Regions from separate parts of the Homo sapiens genome. Here regions 1 and 3 are each linked to region 2. Evidence: fine-mapped expression QTL. A gene starts in region 2. Each other region holds a variant in brackets. All regions are shown on one strand. Distances are between the middles of the regions. Region 1 overlaps AK9 (adenylate kinase 9). Region 2 holds the start of ZBTB24 (zinc finger and BTB domain containing 24). Region 3 overlaps WASF1 (WASP family member 1).

What was found.
Region 1: its variant is fine-mapped to the expression of ZBTB24 in monocytes (Quach 2016, PIP 0.95).
Region 3: its variant is fine-mapped to the expression of ZBTB24 in hypothalamus (GTEx, PIP 0.95).

Annotation. Positions count from the first base shown.
Region 1 is chr6:109,664,737-109,672,923 of GRCh38, forward strand. AK9 (adenylate kinase 9) reads right to left here. Exons shown (of 41, transcript NM_001145128.3): 4 at 7,379-7,431; 5 at 7,183-7,279. Among named protein-coding and RNA genes, the nearest start is that of AK9, 22 kb to the right of the region's middle. The variant T/C (reference allele first, on the strand shown) is at 4,629.
Region 2 is chr6:109,480,058-109,488,244 of GRCh38, forward strand. It overlaps ZBTB24 (zinc finger and BTB domain containing 24), which reads right to left and starts at 3,162. Exons shown (of 7, transcript NM_014797.3): 1 at 3,041-3,162; 2 at 1,018-1,997. The coding sequence starts at 1,969. ZBTB24-DT (ZBTB24 divergent transcript) reads left to right here and starts at 3,587. Exons shown (of 4, transcript NR_187591.1): 1 at 3,587-4,780; 2 at 7,879-8,002. RefSeq lists an enhancer at 653-1,154 and silencers at 2,853-3,142, 3,223-3,662.
Region 3 is chr6:110,137,911-110,146,097 of GRCh38, forward strand. All of the region lies in intron 3 of WASF1 (WASP family member 1), which reads right to left. Among named protein-coding and RNA genes, the nearest start is that of WASF1, 38 kb to the right of the region's middle. The variant C/T (reference allele first, on the strand shown) is at 3,892.

The DNA.
Region 1 (8,187 bases), 180 kb after region 2:
TTAAAAAAGAAGATCAGGCCAGGTGCGGTGGGTCATGCCTGTAATCCCAGCACTTTCGGAGGCCGAGGAGGGTGGATCACAAGGTCAGGCGTTCAAGACCAGCCTGGCCAACATGATGAAACCCCATCTCTACTAAAAAAAAAAAATACAAAAATTAGCCAAGCATAGTGGCGGGTGCCTGTAATCCCAGCTACTCGGGAGGCTGAGGCAGGAGAATCGCTTGAACCCTGGAGGCAGAGGTTGCAGTTAGCCGAGATCGCACCACTGCACTCCAGCCTGGGCAACAGAGCGAGACTCCGTCTCAAAAAAAATAAAGAAGAAGAAGACCAAGAACCATCATGCTAATTCAAAACCTAATTAAATGCTTAGGCATACACAATGTCTCCTAAGCTTTTTTGATCACTTTACTTTCTGCTAACAGTGTGTTGGGCTCTATCCAGAGAAGCAATCCTACCTAATTTAACTTAAAAAGGCAGAAAGGATGACCTTGTCATCTTGGTTTTAGATATATGAACTGTAGGTATGATTCCCTCTTGTCTTGCTATGATCCTTAGTGTCCAACTTGACTTACTTACATGCTCCTGCTATTGTCTTAAACATAGCGTGGTATCCCCAAGGCATCTATCCTATTGGAGGTTCATTAAATTAGCTCAGTACATCCCTAAAAAAATGTAGACACTGCCTGCACTGTCTCAAGAAATGGGCCAGACCTTTCTCTACCTGCCTCTTCTTGTTGTTCTCTTTCTGCTTTTCTGGCTCCACACCACCCTCATTTGGTTTGGCATCTTTGCTCTTGTGAGTCTAGCTTCCACTTGATTAACAACATGTTTGAACTGGTTTTTAAGACTTTGACCAGTATCTCCTCTGGGACACGATGGCTGGCATTAACTCCTGGTCTGACACATTGTGATGGTAGGTACTACACTGAACGGGACTGCATGCCTAGCTCTGGATGGAACTCAGACCTTGGCAAGCTAACTCCTCCAAGTTAGACAGTTCCAGAGACCATCTATCTCCAGAGTCCTTGCCCTTGCCTTGTAAGCAAAAGCAACAGTATCTCCCTGCCATTCCCTATGCTGGTAATACTTCCCAACATCTGTGTATCGTAAGTGGATCACAGAAAGATGCTTGGCACTGTTTGCTGTGCTTGCCAAAACCTTCCTGTTCCTACAGCCACTGCCACTGCCACTGCCTGGAGAGCTTGTCAGGCATTCCACGTGCAACTGTTTGCAGGAATGCTGAACTTCTGGTGTACATGTATATTGGAATGATGTTCATACTTGGTCTCTTTACTGATGGAAATGGCAGAAGAATAAGTAATTTCCATGGATCTAGCTCTCTCTTGAAAGGCCATTGTTTGGGCTGCCTGAATGTTCTGAGCTATGAATTGTGGGGCTCTACCCTCTGAGAGATGTCTAGTATTATCATTCCAGAGCCTAGGGGTGTATCTATGGGAGGAGGTGTGGGATAGACAATTATGTCATCTAAGTTTGTCTCACCATTGCAGATGTAAAGTGGAATAGATTAGTCCTCTAGTCCCAATTCTGGAAGATCCCAGGGACACACTGCTTGTTAAACAGACCAGAACTACTGAGCCCAGTGTCAACCTTTCCAATTCCAGAGACATGTGAGGATGAAAGCACAGATGAGGAACTCCTCGCTCCCACCCCACATGTCCTTGAGACCATTACCAAGCCCTTGCCCTTCCATGCTAACGATGGAGGAGTGGCGCACCCCAAGCCAGTCCTTGCTGGGAGACTTTGCATGTTCTATCATAGGCAGACTAGGTGCTTTGTAGGCCATTGCCCAGTTCTCATTAGCTCAACCAATGAGAAACTGTAAGACTGTCCAGACCACTGCCCAGAGGAAACTGACTTGTCTCAGGCCCATACCATCACTTTGCCACCATTTCTTGGCACAGTGGGAAGAAGGCATTTTCTATTTCCATACAAATGAAGATGGCAGACTACTGCTTTCAGATTGAAGTGATGACAGATTCAGAGATATCAGGTAGCTTTGTGTTCAGCCATCCCTGCTACCCATCTGACCTCTGGCCAGGCTGATGTAGCCTTGTGTCCAGCCATCTCTTCTACCCATCTGACCTCAGACCAGGCTGATATGAGTGGACACATTGGTGACCAATGACTTGCAAGACTATTCATAAAGATATACTCGGGGCAGGGAATGCCCAGACTGGGGCTATTCATTCACTGGGGAAAACGAGATTTTCCAGAATCTAGAAGCAGGGAGCAGTGAGGAGCTTTTAGGATGCCACATATTGACTCTATCTGTTTCTCTTGGGTAAGGATATAGCTCCGAGAAGCTGATTTTGGCTAAGGGCCAAAACAACACAATAGATTGTGAATGAAAAGATAATTATAGATCGTGTAGGCCCTTTTAAAATAGTGATGGAAACACCAATTATTAAAAGGGCTCTAGTATAAAACAAAATTAAGATGAATTTGGCAATACTCTGCCGTGTGATGTCCCTGGAAGTGCACATATCTCTTCAGGGATTTTGGAGTCATCAATTATCCATCCTCACCCAGCCCCCCACTCAAGTTGTTTTTTTTTTTAATTCTCTTTGTTATTTTATTCCATTAATCTCATTTTGAAGTTACTATTTTAGTTGTCATTTGCTTAATTATTTTTTCTTTTGTTTTATTTTATTTATTTTTAATCATACTTTAAGTTCTAGGGTACATGTGCACAATGTGCAGGTTTGTTACGTATGTATATGTGTGCCATGTTGGTGTGCTGCACCCATTAACTCGTCATTTACATTAGCTATATCTCCTAATCCTTTCCCTCCCCTCTCCCCCCATCCCACAACAGGCTCCAGTGTGTGATGTTCCCCTTCCTGTGTCCAAGTGTTCTCATTGTTCAATTCCCACCTATGAGTGAGAACATGCGGTGTTTGGTTTTTTGTCCTTGCGATAGTTTGCTGAGAATGATGGTTTCCAGCTTCATCCATGTACCTACAAAGGACATGAACTCATCATTTTTTATGGCTGCATAGTATTGCATGATGTATATGTGCCACATTTTCTTAATCCAGTCTATCATCGTTGGACATCTGGGTTGGTTCCAAGTCTTTGCTATTGTGAGTAGTGCCACAATAAGCATATGTGTGCATGTGTCCTTATAACAGCATGATTTATATTCCTTTGGCTATATACCCAGTAATGGGATGGCTGGGTCAAATGATATTTCTAGTTCTAGATCCCTGAGGAATCGCCACAGTCTTCCACAATGGTTGAACTAGTTTACAGTCCCACCAACAATGTAAAAGTGTTCCTATTTCGCCACATCCTCTCCAGCACCTGTTGTTTCCTGACTTTTTAATGATTGCCATTCTAACTGGTGTGAGATGATATCTCATTGTGGTTTTGATTTGCATTTCTTGGACGGCCAGTGATGATGAGCATTTTTTCATGTGTCTGTTGGCTGCAGAAATGTCTTCTTTTGAGAAGTGTCTGTTCATATCCTTTGCCCACTTTTTGATGGGGTTTTTTTTTTCTTGTAAATTTGTTTGAGTTCTTTGTAGATTCTGGATATTGGCCCATTGTCAGATGAGTAGGTTGCAAAAATTTTCTCCCATTCTGTAGGTTGCCTGTTCACTCTGATGGTAGTTTCTTTTGCTGGGCAAAAGCTCTTTAGTTTAATTAGATTTCATTTGTCAATTTTGACTTTTGTTGCCATTGCTTTTGGTATTTTAGACATGAAGTCCTTGCCCATGCCTCTGTCCTGAATGGTATTGCCTAGGTTTTCTTCTAGGGTTTTTATGGTTGTAGGTCTAACATTTAAGTCTTTAATCCATCTTGAATTAATTTTTGTATGAGGTGTAAGGAAGGGATCCAGTTTCAGCTTTCTACATATGGCTAGCCAGTTTTCCCAGCACCATTTATTAAATAGGGAATCCTTTCCCCATTGCTTGTTTTTGTCAGATTTGTCAAAGATCAGATAGTTGTAGATCTGCGGCATTATTTCTGAGGCCTCTGTTCTGTTCCATTGGTCTATATCTCTGTTTTGGTACCAGTACCACACTGTTTTGGTTACTGTAGCCTTGTAGTATAGTTTGAAGTCAGGTAGCGTGACGCCTCCAGCTTTGTTCTTTTGGCTTAGGATTGCCTTGGCGATGCCAGCTCTTTTTTGGTTCCATATGAACTTTAAAGTAGTTTTTTCCAATTCTGTGAAAAGTCATTGGTAGCTTGATGGGGATGGCATTGAATCTATAAATTACCTTGGGCAGTATGGCCATTTTCACGACATTGATTCTTCCTATCCATGAGCATGGAATGTTCTTCCATTTGTTTGTGTCCTCTTTTATTTCATTGAGCAGTGGTTTGTAGTTCTCCTTGAAGAGGTCCTTCACATCCCTTGTAAGTTGGATTCCTAGGTATTTTATTCTCTTCGAAGCAATTGTGAATGGGAGTTCACTCATGATTTGGCTGTTTGTTATTGGTGTATAAGAATGCTTGTGATTTTTGCACATTGATTTTGTATCCTGAGACTTTGCTGAAGTTGCTTATCAGCTTGAGGAGATTTTGGGCTGAGACGATGGGGTTTTCTAGGTATACAATCATGTCATCTGCAAACAGGGACAATTTGACTTCCTCTTTTCCGAA[T/C]TGAATACCCTTTATTTCTTTCTCCTGCCTGACTGCCCTGGCCAGAACTTCCAACACTATGTTGAATAGGAGTGGTGAGAGAGGGCATCCCTGTCTTGTGCCAGTTTTCAAAAGGAATGCTTCCAGTTTTTGCCCATTCAGTATGATATTGGCTGTGGGTTTGTCATAAATAGCTTAATTATGATTAGATACATCCCATCTATACCTAATTTATTGAGAGTTTTTAGCATGAAGGGCTGTTGAATTTTGTCAAAGGCCTTTTCTGCATCTATTGACCTAATCAAGTTTATATCCCTGTTTTGAAAACCCTTCACTTCCAATTTTGCTTCTACCTTCTACCAGGCTACGGGTTGAGAGCAAACATCAGGATGAGACGCCTTGCTGGGAATTTGGGCAAAGATTTTCAAACTGTATTTAGCCGAGTGCTAGGTTCTAAAACAATTCCTGTGGGATGCTACAGGATGGGTTAAGGGGTGGCTGGGCAGAAGGCGCTTTAGGTTCCATCTCCACTGCAACCTTTAAATGAGCTCGTTTGTGCATGCCTAGAACGTGGCCTTGTAACCAAATGGTGAGGGTGTGGCCCCCAGACTCAGGAAACCATTTATATCACTTTTCCTCTGCCAGCTCCTAGGACAAGTATCGGCATACAGGAAGTACTGGGGTCTGAGGAATGCAATCAGCCAAATCCAGAATGTGGGAAACTCTACAAGACAAATGACCTGTTTTCTTCATCAGAGAAGAAACAATAAGATAGAAAGAAGTAGGGGAAACTTATATATAAAGAGACTTGAGACATACTAATCACTTGTACTATGTGAAACCTGGTTAGATCCTGCTTCAAAAAAAATCAACTAAAAAATATCTATGAGGTAATTAATGAAATCTAGTAGATGATATCAAGGAATAACAATTAATTTTTTAGGTGTGATAATGGTAATGTGTAATAGGTTTAAGTGTCCTTTTCTTTTAGAGATATAAATGGAACATTATACAGATGAACTGATATGATATGGATTAGCTTCAAAATAACATAGGTTGAGAGAAGGGAGTAAGTAGAAGTGTAGATGAAACGAGATTAGACTAGAGTTGGTTTTGGACATATGCTGAACCTGAGTGGTAATGTGGAAGCATCTTTATACTAATCTCCCTACTTTTGTTTGAACTATTTCCTAATAACAACTGTAAAACATTATGAACACCATGAGAGGCACAACTGAGTTTCTTCGTGTTGTTTTTTTTTCTTTCTCCTTTTGCCAATACTTATAATTTATGTCATCTTTTTTGTAGCCATGTAAACCAATTTAAGTTTTTCAAGAGGTAAGTGAGGTTAACAAATAGGTATTTACTTACCTACCTATATACATATCTGTTTCAAATACTATGTTTTCTGAGGTCATTTATTGACGTAATTTGGAATTCTGTGATTCCTGTTTGCCTTTTTACTTATCCAGCCTTCCATATTCTGGATATTTTGCCGTTCAGTCTCTTTATCACTGCTGAACAAATAGGTAATAAGTGGATAGATAGGTAGATAGTTTACAGAGAAACCTTATCTACTTATAATGTATTTATAATCCATATATATTAATCTCTATATATGTATTATATATAAAAACCCATATATCCATATAGAGACCTGTCTACATATGTGGATATGGGACATTCTATGTATCATCTCTCTATACACATGAGCTATATGAAAAGGAATCTTTTTGTCTATAGATAGAAACCAGTAAATACAGTTTGACAAGGCTGCGTTTGCTGCTTCCATCATTGATTTGCTTTGGCAGTTATGGTTTTTACTTTCCTGTATTTTTATTCCTGCATTAATAGTTACAATGTCTTCTTCTAACTTACTAAGAATATAAAACAACTTTCTTAATTTTTCTTTTTTCATTCAGTAAATCCATTTCAGGTGGATGATTTTATCCCAAACTTGTCATTATTCTTCTCCTCTTCTTTTGCAGAGGTATTAGAGTTTGCTCTTTTCTTTTTAATCATTTTGAGCTTCAGTGGTCTTTGTCTTGAAAAATTAGATCCAAAGCCCTTGCTCAGCATCCATTTGAGTACCAGGAGAGGTTTCAGGTCCAGAGTCAGAGGGCAGACTGGAAGAACAGGCTGAAGCCTGACAATATCTGGAGCTCAACAGTAAGATAGTGGCATTCCACTTCCCACTCCCGCCTTCTAAGTGTGGATTAATGCAGACAACCCTAGCCATTGTCAGGACTTAGCAATATAACCCAAGGTGTATGAGGAAGCAGTCAGCAGAGTTAGCAGTACTGCAAGATGGACCACAGCAGATTTCTGATGCTTTTACTGGATAACACAATGTTAAAGAAGATTGGGTCATATAAACTTATTTTTAAAACAAATGTACAATCTGAGAAATAAAAACAAGCAAATAAAACCATCTGAGCTGTTCAACTGAATAGAGATAATGAGATTCTTATGCTAAGGCAAAAGAAAGGGCAACTCCAGAAACTATTTTTGCCTCAGATAAAGCATGAGTTTTAAGGCTGCTTTGTGGGCTGTAAATATATTAAAATAAACATACCAAAGTGACAGACTTCTGGGGAGTTGAGCTTCTCCAACATTAGCTTTATGACAAGTTCATCTGGAATGCTTTGACCGCTGATCAACATTGATTGCAACTAAGGACAAGCATAGATATTGTACATTACTGTATAATATATCTATGATACAGAGCTTTTTTTGTAATCATAGTTACTTTGAAATTTAGGTTTGTTTACCATAACTCCTGATTCGGTTTCAGCAGCAATCTGTTCTTCTAAAATTGGCAAAGCTAAAACATGAATTCAAAATATTAATACAGACTGATATTAAGATCACCAAAATAAGAAACACATTCTAGTGTCTTGTAACTGGTAACAAAGATTAACATTTGTGCATCACTTTATAATTTACAATGCAAATGTATGCATATTACTTCACTTAAGCCTAACCAAAGCAGAAGCAGCAGAATGTCTTCCATAGAGAACTTGTCTCTGCCACTTACTAAGCTTAAGAATCTTGGAGAAGCGAACATGGTGACTCATGTCTGCAATCCCAGTACTTTGGGAGTTCAAGGCAGGAGGATTGCTTGAGCCCAGAAGTTTGAGACCAGCCTAGGCAACATAGGGAGACTACATTCCTACAAAAAGTTAAAAAATTAGCAGGGCATAGTTATGGTGCATGCCTATAGTCCCTGCTACTCAGGAAGCTGACGTGGGGTGATCACTTGAGCCCAGGAGGTCAAGTTTGCAGAGAGCCGTGATCATGTCACTGCACTCCAGCCTGGATGACAAAGTGAGGGCGTGTCTCAAAATAAAAATAAAAAATAAAAAAATAAAGAATCCTGGGGGAGTTAACTCTGTAAACGCCTCTGCACCTTGGATGCATATGTACTGTGTAGTGTACAATAGAACGTAAGGATGAAATCAGGTGGTGTATATGACAGTGATTTCTAAATCATTTAGTTACAAAAGTATGCACTGGTATTAATTAATCCAGATTTTCATAACCATACAATTACATCCAAAGCCTGCTAGTTTTGCACATG
Region 2 (8,187 bases):
AAAAGCACCAAGGCTCCAGACAACTAAATCAGAAGCTCTGGGGTGGAGGTCTAGGCACTGGTAGTTTTAGAAGCTCCCTAAGTGATTCCAATTTGCAGGCTGAGAACCACAGCACCAGATACTGCTGGATCACAGGAGAAGACTTAAGCCCCAGTCCCTATACTTAAGATTACAATTAAGTTGAGGGATATACAAGTGGTAACAACAATCTGATCCAAAGCAGAGTGGGTTTTAAGCACCTGAAAGGGCTCAAAGGAGGAAGGGATTTCTCACTAGGACTGCAGTGTCCAATACGGTAGCCACTAGCCACATGTGGTTATTCAAATTTAAATGAATTAAAATAAAATTTAAAATTCAGTTTCTCAGTCACGCTAGCCACAGTTCAAGTGCTCAAAAACCACATGTGGTTACTGGCCACCATATTGGACATCAGAGATGTAGGAACATTTCCATCATCACAGAAGGGTCCCATTGGTCAGCGCTGGGCTAGAGGGACCAAAAATGAGAAGGTATTTAAAGCTAGATAGCTGAGTTACAAAGTGATCTACACAGACTTGGGCAAAAGCATGGTTATGGTCAAGATGAAGAATGTTCAAGAATCAGAAAGCAGGGTACATTGGGCTAGATCTTGATAAGTGGACATTAAAGGATTCATTCAACAACTACAAATGAGAGGGGTTCTTGAACCAGGCTACCTGGGTTCAATCCCAGCTCTGTCACTAACGGGTGACTCTGGCAAGTTATTTAAGCTCCCTAGAACTTGGTTGCTTCATCTGTAAACTATGCACTTTAGCAACCCTCTCTTACATATGAGTAAATATGATTTTAATCATACAATGTATAATGAGGATATTACCCACCTTGCAGGATTGTGGAGAAAATTAACTGCAATAACATGTATAAAGGCTTTATTACAATGCCCATCACACAGAAGTTGCACAGTAAATGGAAGCTATTATTATCATCACTACTCCCAATTCTGCAACACACTGCAATCAGCTTTGAAAACATCATTACCTGTGTGGCTCCTCTGGTGGATTGCTAAAAAGTGATTGTACTTAAAGACCTTGCCACAGTCTTTACAGCGGGCCTCAGGGCCTCCAGGGCGCTTTCTCCTTCCACAGATCCTCTTGGCTGAACCATGGTCCTCTTGATCCCCAACAAGTTTGTAATCTTTAAGTTTGACGGATCTCCAAATCCTCCGCTTGCTGTATCGACTCTGGCTTGCCTGGCCATCCTCGGTCTTGGGATCATAGTTCTCATCTTTTTCAACTGGCATTTCCTCCTCTCTACTTGGCTCACAAGTAGGCTCCGATTCTTCCTTTTCTTTTGCTGCAATTTGCTCATTCAGTACACCACTGTCTCCTTTAACCACAAAGTTTTGTCTATTCTGAACTGAATTGTTCACTCTTAACTGTATTTCTTCCTCTGCAGCCAGTTCTGATTTCTCCTCCTGCAATGTATTGACTTTTTTTGGTCTTCCCCGTTTCCGCTTTGGAGGATCGTTTTTCTTATTAGAGATAACAACCACTGGGGCACCAGCAGTGTTCAAAGTTGTTGGCTTTGGGGAGCTATGATTATTTTGGAAGTCTGTGTAAGCCTTTACCAGGTCATAGACTTTTAAGAACTGAGCAGTAGCCAGGATTTGTTCTGTACTTTTCTCACTGGCATGGAGATAACCTGTGTAGATAAATTCCAGCAGGATACCAAAGGTGTCTGCAACCATGCCTTCCAGCATATAAATGGATTGGCCGATTTCCCCCTCTTCTGCAAACATCATTGAGAAGTATTCACTACTGGCAGCAAGTAAGGCTTTGTGGGCCCGGAAATGTACATTCTCCACGATTAAAGTAATGTCACAGAGGAAGCCTTTCTTCCTCTGATCCTCAAAACTGGCCAGCACAGTGTCACTGTGAGCGTCTGAGTGTACAACAAGCTGCCCAGAAGGCTCTGGCGATGTTTCTGCCATTTTCTTCAGAAGCCACTAAGGGTTAAATCTGAAATAAGAAAACAAGGTTTAAAAAGGAGAAAGCACTGTCTAAAAGGTTAATGCCAGCCCACATGAACTTCCTATTCACTTCACATCATTAACTGAATTTTACCATTACCATTTTTGTCTGTCTACAAACTTAGCTCTGGGCCCGGGCGCAGTGGCCTCACGCCTGTAATCCCAGCACTTTGGGAGGCCGAGGCCGACGGATCACTTGAGACCAGCCTGGGCAACATGGAGAGAATTCATCTATACAAAAAATACAAAAATTAGCCTGGCGTGGTGGCGCCCGCCTGTGGTCCCAGCTACTCAGGAGGCTGCGGCAGGAGCATCACCTGAGCCTGGGAGTTCGAGGTTGCCGTGAGCCGTGATCGTGCCACTGCACTCCAGCCTGGGCGACAGAACGAGACCACCACCTCAAAAAACAAAAACAAAACAACTTAGCTCGCGGTTTTTTTTTTTTGAGACGGAGTCTCGCTCTATCGCCCAGGCTGGAGTGCAGTGGCGCAATCTCGGCTCACTGCAACCTCCGCCTCCCAGGTTCAAGCAATTCTCTCCCTCAGCCTCCTGCCGCACATTAACTAGCTGAGTGACTCTCCAGTATTCATGGAACGGTTCAGGGTCTACCTTCTATAAAATGAAGGAATGGGATTAACCATCTCCAAAATCCTCCGCAAGCACGAACTTTCTATGGTTGCACAACTATTTCAGGGAGAACGAAGCTGCCTCCATCTCCCAGATTATTAGCCATTTCGTATGTGGGAACCAATGTGAAGAGTGAAGAAATGTGCACGTGCAAAGTGAATGTGAGGTAGCTGCAATAAAATACTAATAACTTAAGCTGCGTGGGGCCGCCAGACACACTAGGGGCGGCGCGGAGCCCCCCGCAGCCCCGGGTGGTCCCAGCAGGGAGAGGTGGCGCGGAAAGACCCCCACCTCCCCGCCCAGGCCCCGCGGGCCCGACTGGGGAGCACACGGCGGGGGAGGGGTCGGCGCGGCAGACCTACCGCTCAGGGGCGCCCGGTGGGGTCCGGGTCGCTGCCAACTCACCCGGCGGCCTGGCGGGAGACCCACGCCGGGGCCCGCTGGCCCTCCGCTCCGCCCCGCCCGCCTCTGGGGCTTCTGCGCCGCACCGGTTTCTGCTCCTGCGCCGCCGCCGCAGCCACAGCCACAGCCAACCCGGAAGCGCGGCGCCAAGAGCCGCTTGCGCGCGGACGCCGAACCACGTGGCCCGCAGAGGCGCCCCTGGAGGTGGGGGCCACGAGAGCGGCGGGGAGGGGAAGGGAGGTGAGGGGCGGGGCGGGGCGAGATGGCGGGGCGGGGCGGGGCGGGGCAAGGCGGGGCAAGGCAGGGCAAGGCGGGGCGCGAAGGCAGTTCAAGGGTTGGGGCGTGGCAGGGGAGGGGAGGGGCAAGGCGGGGCGAGAATGCAGGCCTGGGGTCGGGGGAGCCGCGGCGGGGCGGGGCAGGGCGGGGCGAGATGGCAGGCCCGGGGCTTTGGGGCCGGGGCCGGGGCCGGGGCCGGGGCAGGGCGGGGAGGGGCGCGGCTTCGGAGGAGGGACAGTGGCCGGGGCGGGGCGCGGCCAGGGGCGGGGCGGTGTCGGCGCCCGAGGTCCTGCGTGTGGCACTGCCGGGGAGCCCAGGCAGGAGCGACTTTTGCGGTGAATTGGGGGCAATGGACAGGAGAGGCGTTGTGACCCCTCCCTTTGGGAAGTTTTATATCGTATTAAACTGTTAGCTCAACGCCAATACCTTAATTTTATCTCTTCTCCGACACCGAATCTGGTGTTGTTCTTGAATGTATAAAGGCATGAAATCCCCCTTACCGTCATCATCATTGTCATCATCATCACCATCGTCATTATCTAGTGCTAATATAATAACTATTACTTACCTCCTAAATGTTTTTCACATCTGCCTCCTTTTCCTCCCCACTCCTGATGCCTTAGTCTAAGGGAATGAAGAGAGCACTGCAGTCAGAGAAACCTGGGTTCTGAGAGATCTTGGGCAAATTACTTACCCTCACAACTTCTTTACCTTACCTGTAAAATGGAGATGTTAACACTAGTGCCACTTTGGTAGGGTTGCTATTGCATAAACAAAATTAAGTATGTAATGGGCTTAGGAAATGCCTGGTTTAATTCGTCTGCTGTGATTAAAATGATCATTATTATTCAAACTTTCATCATCTTTGTTCAATAGACTGTTTCTAACTGGTCTCAGCTGCAGCGTTGTTCTCTTTAATTCGCAGAAGTACAGAGGATTTCTCCAAGTACATATGAGATCCAGAGACTAGAGTCACTCCTTGGCTTAGAATCCATGTGGCTCCCACATGCCCTCTGGATAAAGTCCAGGCTTCTTAATGTGGTCTACAAGCCCCATCCAGATCTACTCCCCACCTGCTTCCATCCATTTATTTCAGCATTTTCTCTCTCTTAGCCAATACCTAATTACTTATTTTTCTGCCCATTTCCAGATTCCCAACATGCCATCTATAGCCTCCCTGATCTTGAACCGGAGGTGTAATTAGCAACCTGGCTCTTACATTTTTACTAGATTTTATTAAAACTAGCTCAAGCCACACATGCTCCTTCTCTGAGGTTTCCCTTTCATATTGAATTGTCTCTAAGTCCTCTGGATTTGTGGGGGTACAAGTGGGATGGGGAGCGCTCCCTGACTTCTGCATACCAGCAGGAAGTTAGCTACCTCATTGTTTCTTGCTGCTACGAGGGTTGCAGTCAAATCACTGTCCCTCCAGAGGTCCTCAACGGCATAAGAAGACTCAGTGCCAAGGTAAGCCAGGTACTTCCATTTCCTCATTCAATCATTGCTCACTGGAGCATAATCCTGCGAGGAAAGACTGAGTCTGGAGGATCTTCCAGCATCAGCCACCCACAACACAGACTAGCCCTTTCTTCAAGGCAATTTTGTTTTGGATCCATACTGACTTTTTCAAAACTTTTGTTCTTGTTAAGGCCAGCCGGTCTACCCCTAACAGGTCTTCTTAAATTTAAATCTTGCAGAACAGGATTTGGGGTGTCATACATTCATCTAACAGATATTTATCGAGTGTCTACTAAGAGCCAGACATTGGCGTCAGGTGTTGGGGATACAGCAACTAACAAGGCCTTTGCTCTCATGAAGCTTACATTCTACTAAGGGGAGACAGGACAAATATACAAGTAAACTAATGAATAATAGTTTCAGAAAGTGTTAAATTTTATAAAGAATGATGATGGAGACTGACAGGGAAGTGAAATCAGGATAGGGTGACATTTGAGCTGAGATCTGAATGACATGGAGACAGCTGTGGGAAGATCTGGAATAAAAATGTTCTAGGCAAGGGAAAAGCAAGCATAAAGGCTCAGACTGGGAAGGAGCATCTGATGAACGGCAAGGACTGTGTGGCTGGAGCACAGTGAGTGAGGGGCAGCAGATGGAGTGGAGAGTTGCCAGATTTCACAAATAAAGACACAGGACACCCATTTAAAAAAATAAATGCTGCCTCAGCCTCCCATGCTGGGATTACAGGCATGAGCCACCTATACCCAGCCAACAAAGAATTTTTTTTCATATAAATTTAGTGTAGCTTAGAGCGTACAATGTTTATAACGTCTACAGTAGTGTATAGCCATGTCTTAGGCCTTCACATTCACTCACCACTCACTCACTGACTCACCCAGAGCAACTCCTATTCCTGTAAGCTCCATTCATGGTAAGTGCCCTACACAGGTGTACTTTTTTTTTCTTTTATACTGTTTTGTTTTGAGACAAAATCCCACCCTGTTGCCTAGGCTGGAGTGCAGTGACATGATCTCAGCTCACTGTGACTTCTACCTCCTGGTCTCAGGTGATCCTCCCCACTTAGCCTTCTGAGTAGTTGGGACTGCAGACATATGCTACCACACTCCACTATTTTTTTTTTTCCGTATTTTTTGTAGTGATGAGGTTTTGCCATGTGGCCCAGGCTGGTCTTGAACTCCTGGGCTCAAGTGCTCTGCCCACCTAGGCCTTCCAAAGTGCTAGGATAACAGGCATGAGCCATCAGTATACTGTATTTTAAGTGTCTTTCTTATGTTTTGATATGTTTAGATACAGAAATACCACTGTGCTACAGCTGCTTACAGTATTCAGTACAATAACATTCTGTACAGGTTGGTAGCACAGGAGCAATAGGTTGTACCATAGAGCCTAGGTGTGTAGTAGACTATACCATCTAGGTTTGTGTAAGTTCACTCTGTGATGTTTGCACAGTGACGAAGTCACCTAGTGATGCATTTCTCAGAACATATCCCTGTCATTAAGCAATGCATGACTGTACCTATAAAAGAAAACCAGTTAAAATGACAGCTGGTTTCTCAACAGCAATAGTAGAAGCCAGAGGTTAGTGGCATGATACTTTCAAAATTCACCTAAAATCTTTTTTATAGACTACAATTATCATGGAAAAGGACAAAATCAAGACAATTTTGGTCAAACAAAAAATAAAAGTATTAACCTCCAACAAACCCATACCATAGGAAGGAAAATAACACCAAGAGGAAAGTCTGAGGTATAAGAGGGAGTTGTAAGCCAAAAAAAAAAAAAAAAAGAGAAAAAAGTAAGTATGAAGGAAATCTAAACAAACATTGATTATGCAAAATAATGTCTAATTCGGAGAGTAAACAAATAGAGTAGATCTAAAATATTGAATGAAAATACCATTTAAGATGGGAAGCTGGTTATCAGTATTCCAGTGTTTTAAGGGTACAGCTATTGATTACCTTGAGGCTTTACATATACATGGTGAAAGAGTAAGGGACAGCCACTTAATTGGTACAAATAGAGTGCATACTTCAAACACTGTAGAGGAGATAATGGCATTTCAAAGTTATTGGTCAATGCCAGGTCGGGTGCAGTGGCTCATGCCTGTAATCCCAGCACTTTGGGAGGCCAAGGTGGGCGGATCACTTGAGGCCAGGAGTTCAAGACCAGCATGGCCAACATGGCAAAACCCCGTCTCTACTAAAAATACAAAAATTAGCCGGGCGTGGTGGCACAGCTACTTAGGAAGATGAGGCACGAGAATCTCTTGAACCCGGGAGGCGGAGGTTGCAGTCAGTTGAGATCATGCCACTGCACTCCAGGCTGGGCGACAGAGCAAGGCTCTGTCTCCAAAAATAAAAAATAAAAAAAAATAATAAAAAAAAAGAGAGAGAGAAAGAGAAGGATGGAGAGAATGTTAAAGGCAAGAAGAGCCAGATCATGTAAAGTCTTTTATGCCAAGAAAAAGGAGTTTCGATTTTAACTGAAATAGGAGGCCACTGGAAGATTATTCAAAAGGACTGTTGAATCTGACTTATGTATTTAAAAATTACTCCAGCTGCTAGATGAAGAGTAGATCCTGGAGGGACATGAGTGGAGGCATGGATATGAGGGTGACAGCAGTGTAAAATGTAAGAAGAGCCCATATTCAAGGTAGATTTGGGGGATAGGTCTTTCTGAGAGGACTTGCTGAGAATAGATGTGCGGAGTGACGGAAACAATGCAATCAAGATTGACTCCTGGGTTTGGGGCTAAATCAACAGAGTGTACGGTGTTACCATTAACTGATCTGGAAGAAGAGAAGTTGGGTTGGATAACAAGTATGGGGTGGACATATTAAATTTGAAATGTTAACTAGATAACCAAGTACAGTAGGCAGTCATAGGTAACAATCTGGAGTTCAGAGCTGAGAACAGAATTGAGATATTAATAATGGAGTTATCAGAGCATAGATTATAAATTGTTGTAAGTAAGATCAGTTACAGAGTGAATATTGATAAAAGGCGATCCAGATTTTTTCTCTTTCCTCTCCAAATGTAGTCTCCATTCTTCTCTCCTTTTTTTTTTTTTTTTTTTGGCCCTGGGAGGCTACAGGGACTCAAGGACTTCATCATCAAAGTCCTGTGCCGGCTAGCTTCCAGTTGTATTGAGTCAATGGAGAATCTGGCAGATTGGAGGAAGGAGAAGGTCATGATCATCTGGCAATTAAAGGTTAGTGGAAGTCCTTTGTCATGATGAAGGGCATCAAAAATATGTGTGTAGCCTGGGATGGTTGGTTGATAACTGTGGCTGGAAGGAACTATAGTCCAAGGCTTATTATGACTTAAAGGGATTTGGGGAGAACAGAAGGACAATTGTCAATGTTCAGTGCCAATAGTGCATCTTTAGAGGGATTT
Region 3 (8,187 bases), 660 kb after region 2:
CACAGGGTCCTTAGGGTGTGTCACTTTTCCAGCTGGAAACCTCTGTGGCCAGTGGCACCTGTGCCAGAGTTTTGCTCAGGGCCACTGGGCTTGTTCCGCTCACTCAGCCTGGCAGGCTGCGCAGCTCATACTACCAGCCTGGATCCCACACCTGCCAAGGGTGAGCCAGGCACGGAGTGGCAAGGGGTGTGTAAGCAAGCACAGGGTCTGGCCACTGTGCATAGCCAAGCATGCTGGCTGCAGTGGGGCAGGGAGCTCCAGGTGCTGGCACAGGTGTTGGCTCCCTGAGAGGCTGCGGCTGGACTAGGTATACCACAAGTGGCTTCCACCACAGGAACCAGGGAACACTGTGGTGCCCAGAAGCTTGTAGACACCAGGAACTGCAGAGCCCCAAAGAGAGTGTCACAGCAATGGCTTAGGAAGCTCCTAGGTCTGGGATCTCCAAAGGCCACAGCTATTTTCACCTTCTCTCTTCTCTTCTTCTCATTGCCTGCAATGTGGCAAGTGAGGATCATGTTTCAGCTCTGTGTTATAGCTCTTCCAGTCCTGCCATTCAGCAGGTCCCGAGTTCTTGTCCCACGTCTGGGAAGAATGAAGCATGTGAAGAGGAGCATCACTGAGCGACAGAACAGCTCTCAGGACACCGGAAGCGGGTAGTCCCTTTTCACAGGCAGATCATCCCAATGAGTGTCCAGCTCTCAGCAGAGAAGAGACCAGGAGTGGGTAGCTCTTCTCCATAGGGAGGTTGTCCCAATGAGTTGAGGAGACCCAAAGTGGGTAGCTCCTTCCTGCAGCTAGTAGTCCCAATGTCTGTGTGAATCTGGCTGAGTCTGAAGTTTTTATGGGCTCAGAAGGGAGGAAGAGCATGCTGATTGGTCCATAGGCGGCCATGGGTGGGCTTGGAAAAGACACCATAAGTTCTCACTGTGGTCCACAGAACTGAGAGCCCAGCCCCCAGGCTACAGGCCTTCCCTGGCTTAAAGATGGGGTTTCACTTGGGACCCACCCTTTTCCACTCAGGAGCCTGTCTGCCTCCTGTCACCATCAACATGCTGTCCATGGCACCCAGGCTGTTCATGCTGAGAGATGCCTTCAGGCCTGAGCCGAGCTTCCCTCAGCCTCACTTCCATTTTCCTCCCATGCTCATAGGCACCCAAAGTCTGGAGGGGGTCAAGGTGGCAGGGGTTGGTGTGTCAGTACTGCCTTGAGCACACACACACCTGGCCAGCTTGTGACACCACCCGGGCTTAGCCACAACTTTGCTCTGCCCTGGAACAGGTGCCGGGATCGGGGAGAGACCAGGGAGTGGGAGCAGGCACTTCCAAGCCTGTGGGGGCAAAGAGATTTCCCAGGCCCCCAAGAGCACGGGGATGGCCAGGACCACAGCCCGTGGCTGGGTGGCTGCAGTTGTGCCCAGTAGCACAGGGCTCCCACCCCACCAACTTGGTAGAGCGCAGGGCTCCCACCTGTTCCCAGCCCTGACCGCTCCTCCCCCGTTGCAGCCAGCATCTTTGCAGCAGCTGCTACATACGGGCTGCTGCCGCCATCATAAGCAAAACCTTAACTTTTAACTTCAGAGCACTGACCCCATTTCTCTGAAGTCTGCATCTCCTGAATGGCTATTCCCAGCTTTTTGCTTGAATAAACTCTTTAAACTGGATTCTGATTCTTTCAATTATCTTAGGTTGACAGACTAGACTTTCTTCCTCCAGTCTTATATTTTCTCCTTGTCATTCCATCTACACCACCACTCCCACCAATTCAATCCATCCCACACCACTGCTTTAAGAATAGAGCAGATCCCCTCCAATCCATGGAGGATACATTCCAAGACCTCCAGTGGATGCCTGAAACCACAAATAGTACTGAGCCTATATATACTATGTTTTTTCCTATTCATACCTGTAACATTTAACTTATAAATTAGACACAGTAAGAGGATAACCCAATAACTAATAATAGAAAATTATAATAATATACTATAACAAAAGTTGCATGAATATGACCTCTCGCTCTCTCAAAACATCTAATTGTACTTGTAATATTATGAAATATTTATTTGGTTGGCTTTCCACCCAATTTTCTGGGATACAACTTCTAAATTCCTTAGAATATCTAAAGCATTGCTTTTTTGTAGGATTGGGGCTGGTCACCTGAAAGACAAATGCATGATTAGAGGGTTGGAACTTTCAGCCCCATCCCCCTAACATCCAGGGAGCTGAGACAGGCTGAATGTTAAGTTGACACCAATAGCCAAAGGTTTATTCAATCATGTCTATGTAATGAAGCCTCCCTAAACACTCATAAGGATGGGTCTGGAGAGCTTCCAGAGAGGTAAACACATGGAGGTTCCTGGAAAGTGGTATGTCCTGGAAAGGCATGGATGCTCTATGCCCCTTCCCCTATAACTTGCCCCATGCATTCTTATCTATGTTCCTTGTAATACCCTTTAATAATAAATTGGTAAGTATAAGTGCTTCCCTGAGTTCTGTGAGCCACTCCAGCAAATTAATCAAACCCAAAGGGGGAGTCATAGGAACCCAACTTGAAGTGGGTAGGAACAGAAGTTCCAGAGGCCTGAACTTGCAACTGGTATCTCAAGAGGTGGCAGTCTTGTGGGACTGAACCCTCAATCTATGGGATCTGACACTATCTCCAGGTAGATAGTGTCAGAATTGAATTGAAGAACACCCAGCCAGTGTCTGCTGAAGAATTAATTGCTTGCTTGGTGTGCGGGGAAAAACCCCACACAACTGATCACACAAGTATTCCGTGTTGATTGTTGCTGTGGTGTGAGAGCAGAGGAAAAACACATTGAGTGTGTTTCTTCAACTCACAGTACTGAACTCCCCCTTCTTGTGATGGTGTGAAATGATAAAATGCCTACAGGATCAGATGAAATGAGGTGAATGACATAGCTACTGTGACATAGTGTTAAGCTATGTCAGAAGGAGCCATGACAATGTCAACGGTTGAAAGTCAGGAGCTGAGGATGTCAATGACCAATGAGAAGGAAGCATATACAGTGTGGATATGCTAGACAAAAGGATGAATCACATTCCAGGCAGGATGGCACAAGATTTCATCATGCTACTCAGAATCACATGCAATTTAAAACTTATGAATTTTTTTTTCTGGAATTTTCCATTTAATATTTTTGGGCCATGGTTGACCACTGGTAACTAAAACCACAGAAAGCAAAACCATGAATGAAAGGGGGACTATTGCATTATAAAAATTTTGAATCTGGAAATGTCCTTCTGCAAAATCAAACCCTTCCTTGGTTCCTTGTTGTCAGGGTAAAGTCCAAACATAATATACAAGGTTCTTCAGGATTTAGCCCACCTCCTCACTTCTACCCTCATTTCTCACTACACTCCTACATTATACTCTAATTATTCTAAATATATCTTACTGTTTTATAGTCCTGCCTTTCCTCATGCTGCTCTCTGCCTGGGATGTATTTCACTTTTTTATCCTCAGAGAGAATATATAATTGTTCAAGACTAGACTCAGGCAGCAACTCTTTTCTGAAGACTAACTGAATCCCCCAGGCAGATGTAACCATCTACTCTTTGATGCCCTCAACATGGATCCACAAATGCATCTACCGAATTACTACCAATTATACTTTACTATACTGTGCTTATTTGTTTACACATCCATGCCTGAATGTCAGCTTTTAGAAGGCAAAAATCTTGCCTTACTCGCCTTACTCAACTTGTATCTCCAAGATCTAGAACACAGATGTTCAACAGCTAATCAATAAATAAATGGAAGAAATAACAAAATCATGAGCTTTAAGGAAGCCAAAAAAGAAAAAATAGGTTGCTGCGGGAAGACAGACACACATACACTTATCTTTTTTTTTTTTTCTTTGAGTCGGAGTCT[C/T]GCTCTGTCACCCAGGCTGGAGTACAATGGCATGATCTCGGCTCACTGCAACCTCCGCAACCCAGGTTCAAGCGATTCTCCTGCCTCAGACTCCTGAGTAGCTGGGATTACAGGTGCGCACCGCCACGCTCAGCTAATTTTTGTATTTTTAGTAGAGACAGGGTTTCACCGTGTCAGGCTGGTCTCGAACTCCCGACCTCGTGATCCACCCGCCTCACACATACACTTTCTAAAGCAACTACTTAATCATGATTCTAAGGAGCTGCTTTTTTGTATGTGCATGGAAAAGAAATACATTTGAGAAAAATAATATCTTACAAATGTATTATGGAATCATAGGCTTGCTTGTTTCACTCTCCCAAGAAAAAGCATGGATGGATCATATCTTACTCATTTCTTCATCTTTATGGGCTAGCTCAGAGTTCAAGGGTATAAAATCACACACATTTTGATGAAAGGAATGTACAGCATACAGACTAGTTTTGAAATATTATCCAAATCGCAAAAGAAAAATGGCTTTCATTGTGATTAAAATAGTGCCTTTAGGTACAATGCAAAAGCTTTTTAGAGAGAAAACCTTTCCTCATCCTTTCTTTTTACTTCAGTTTCAACACCAGATCCATTTTCTTATTTCTCTACCTTATTCCTTGGTGATTTCTAATGTCATTTATCTAACTCAACTATCAAAATCTCAGTGGCAGAAAGTAAAATAAAGCCTAATAACTTTATCTCCTAAATCCTGAGAAAACTGCCTGATTCCCATTTTAGAGCAATCCCAACACCATCTTTTTCATGGGATCCTTTGTCAGGCTAGAAAAGAATTTTAAAAAAATCAAAAAACAAAAGAAACCCTAAATGCTAAAAGGTATAATTTAATCATCAAGCAAATATAAAATCAAATTCATCTCAGTATTTTTAATACTGCAAATGATACACTGTTTAAGAATTTAAACATTGCATAGAATGAACCAATTACATATAATTTAACATCTTTTAATCCATCAGTGCCTAACTTGCTTAATAAGGGGGAACTTTTTTATTAAAAAGGGCTAAATTATACGGTGCTATAACATAAAATAACCAATTTTTGAATTTCCCGACTATTATATAACACATGTGGTTCCAAAAGTAATTTGGTTTCCCAATGATGTAAAAAAAAAAAAAAAAAAAAACTAAAGCAATTCCCAAGTTTCTTCGTTTATTTTCCTGTGTTCTTATCAATTAAACTATCAATTGCTGAAGCAAACATCAATAGATTGTTGAGAGTACGTAAACTAAAGAATATATCCCCTAAAAAGATTTTAAAATAATTTTTAAGAATAACTTAGCTAAAATCTTAATAATCTGTTTTTAATTTTAAAAAAAACCTTTTCATGGGTATACTTTTAAATCCTGATATAGATTTTAACATTAAAAATAAAATGAGCTACAATACTGTTTATAAGATCTCACAATATCTTATATTGAAAGCCCTCTTTTAAGAAGGCAAGGAAAATGAAACTACTGAAATCTAACCATAGCAAAATGTTTGACAGAATTCTAAATTGTTTATTTTGATGACTACTGCTAATATTGATAATATACTCTCTGTTAAAGAATGCCTTCTCTTGATTCAAAATGAGGCATATATATGTATGAGTATAAGCAATATATAAAGTATTAAAAATAACCCAAGATCAGATGTCATAATGATTTTATGAATTGAGAAATCAGAAAAGTACACTATCTAAATTCTGATTTCAGAACTCAAAAAATGGCCTGTAAAGTTTATTTAAAACGTTTAAAGGACTCCTTGTAGTTAACAATTCAGAGGAAAATAAAATAGCTGCTTATTTTAAGATGTCACAGAAATAATTACATTAACAGTTAATAATTGCTTTATGGGTTATACAAAGAACATAAGAATTAAAAGTATTTTATTACCTAATCAATGACAAGTGATTAATTCTTTACATTCATGGTCAATGAAATAATTTACGATCATTTAAAGGTGTTTCAGTATTTTTAAAATGACATTAATGTTAACTAAAAAATTATATGTCATAGAAATATAATTTTCATTGTTGGACATTTGGGTTGGTTCCAAGTCTTTGCTATTGTGAATAGTGCCGCGATAAACATACGTGTGCATGTGTCTTTATAGCAGCATGATTTATAGTCCTTTGGGTATATACCCAGTAATGGGATGACTGGGTCAAATGGTATTTCTAGTTCTAGATCCCTGAGGAATCACCACACCGACTTCCACAATGGTTGAACTAGTTTACAGTCCCACCAACAGTGTAAAAGTGTTCCTATTTCTCCACATCCTCTCCAGCACCTGTTGTTTCCTGACTTTTTAATGATTGCCATTCTAACTGGTGTGAGATGGTATCTCACTGTGGTTTTGATTTGCATTTCTCTAATGACAAGTGATGATGAGCTTTTTTTCATATATTTCTTGATGGCATAAATGTCTTCTTTTGAGAAGTGTCTGTTCATATCCTTTCCCCACTTGGTGATGGGGTTGTTTGTTTTTTTCTTGTAAATTTGTTGGAGTTCATTGTAGATTCTGGATATTAGCCCTTTGTCAGATGAGTAGGTTGCAAAAATTTTCTCCCACTCTGTAGTTTGCCTGTTCACTCTGATGGTGGTTTCTTTTGCTGTGCAGAAGCTCTTTAGTTTCATTAGATCCCATTTGTCAATTCTGGCTTTTGTTGCCATTGCTTTTGGTGTTTTAGACATGAAGTCCTTGCCCATGCCTATGTCCTGAATGGATATGCCTAGGTTTTCTTCTAGGGTTTTTATGGTTTTAGGTCTAACGTGTAAGTCTTTAATCCATCTTGAATTAATTTTTGTATAAGGTGTAAGGAAGGGATCCAGTTTCAGCTTTCTACATATGGCTAGCCAGTTTTCCCAGCACCATTTATTAAATAGGGAATCCTTTCCCCATTTCTTTATCAGGTTTGTCAAAGATCAGATAGTTGTAGATATGCGGCATTATTTCTGAGGGCTCTGTTCTGTTCCATTGGTCTATCTCTCTGTTTTGGTACCAGTACCATGCTGTTTTGGTTACTGTAGCCTTGTAGTGTAGTTTGAAGTCAGGTAGCGTGACGCCTCCAGCTTTGTTCTTTTGGCTTAGGATTGACTTGGCGATGCGGGCTCTTTTTTGGTTCCATATGAACTTTAAAGTAGTTTTTTCCAATTCTGTGAAGAAAGTCATTGGTAGCTTGATGGGGATGGCATTGAATCTATAAATTACCTTGGGCAGTATGGCCATTTTCACGAAACTGTTTCTTCCTACCCATGAGCATGGAATGTTCTTCCATTTGTTTGTATCCTCTTTTATTTCATTGAGCAGTGGTTTGTAGTTCTCCTTGAAGAGGTCCTTCACATCCCTTGCAAGTTGGATTCCTAGGTATTTTATTCTCTTTGAAGCAATTGTGAATGGGAGTTCAGTCATGATTTGGCTCTCTGTTTGTCTGTTATTGGTGTATAAGAATGCTTGTGATTTTTGCACATTGATTTTGTATCCTGAGAATTTGCTGAAGTTGCTTATCAGCTTAAGGAGATTTTGGGCTGAGACAATGGGGTTTTCTAGATATACAATCATGTCATCTGCAAACAGGGACAATTTGACTTCCTCTTTTCCTAATTGAATGCCCTTTATTCCCTTCTCCTGCCTGATTGCCCTGGCCAGAACTTCCAACGCTATGTTGAATAGGAGTAGTGAGAGAGGGCATCCCTGTCTTGTGCCAGTTTTCAAAGGGAATGCTTCCAGTTTTTGTCCATTCAGTATGATATTGGCTGTGGGTTTGTCATAGGTAGCTCTTATGATTCTGAGATACATCCCATCAATACCTAATTTATTGAGAGTTTTTAGCATGAAGGGTTGCTGAATTTTGTCAAAGGCCTTTTCTGCATCTATTGAGATAATCATGTGGTTTTTGTCTTTGGTTCTGTTTATATGCTGGATTAAGAAAATGTGGCACATATATACCATGGAATATTATGCAGTCATAAAAAATGATGAGTTCATGTCCTTTGCAGGGACATGGATGAAGCTGGAAACCATCATTTCTCAGCAAACTATAACAAGGACAAAAAAACCAAACACTGCATGTTCTCACTCATAGGTGGGAATTGAACAATGAGAACACATGGACACAGGAAGGGGAACATCACACACCGGGGACTGTTGTGGGGTGGGGGGAGGGGGGAGGGATGGCATTAGGAGATATACCTAATGCTAAATGACGAGTTAATGGGTACAGCACACCAACATGGCACACGTATACATATGTAACAAACCTGCAC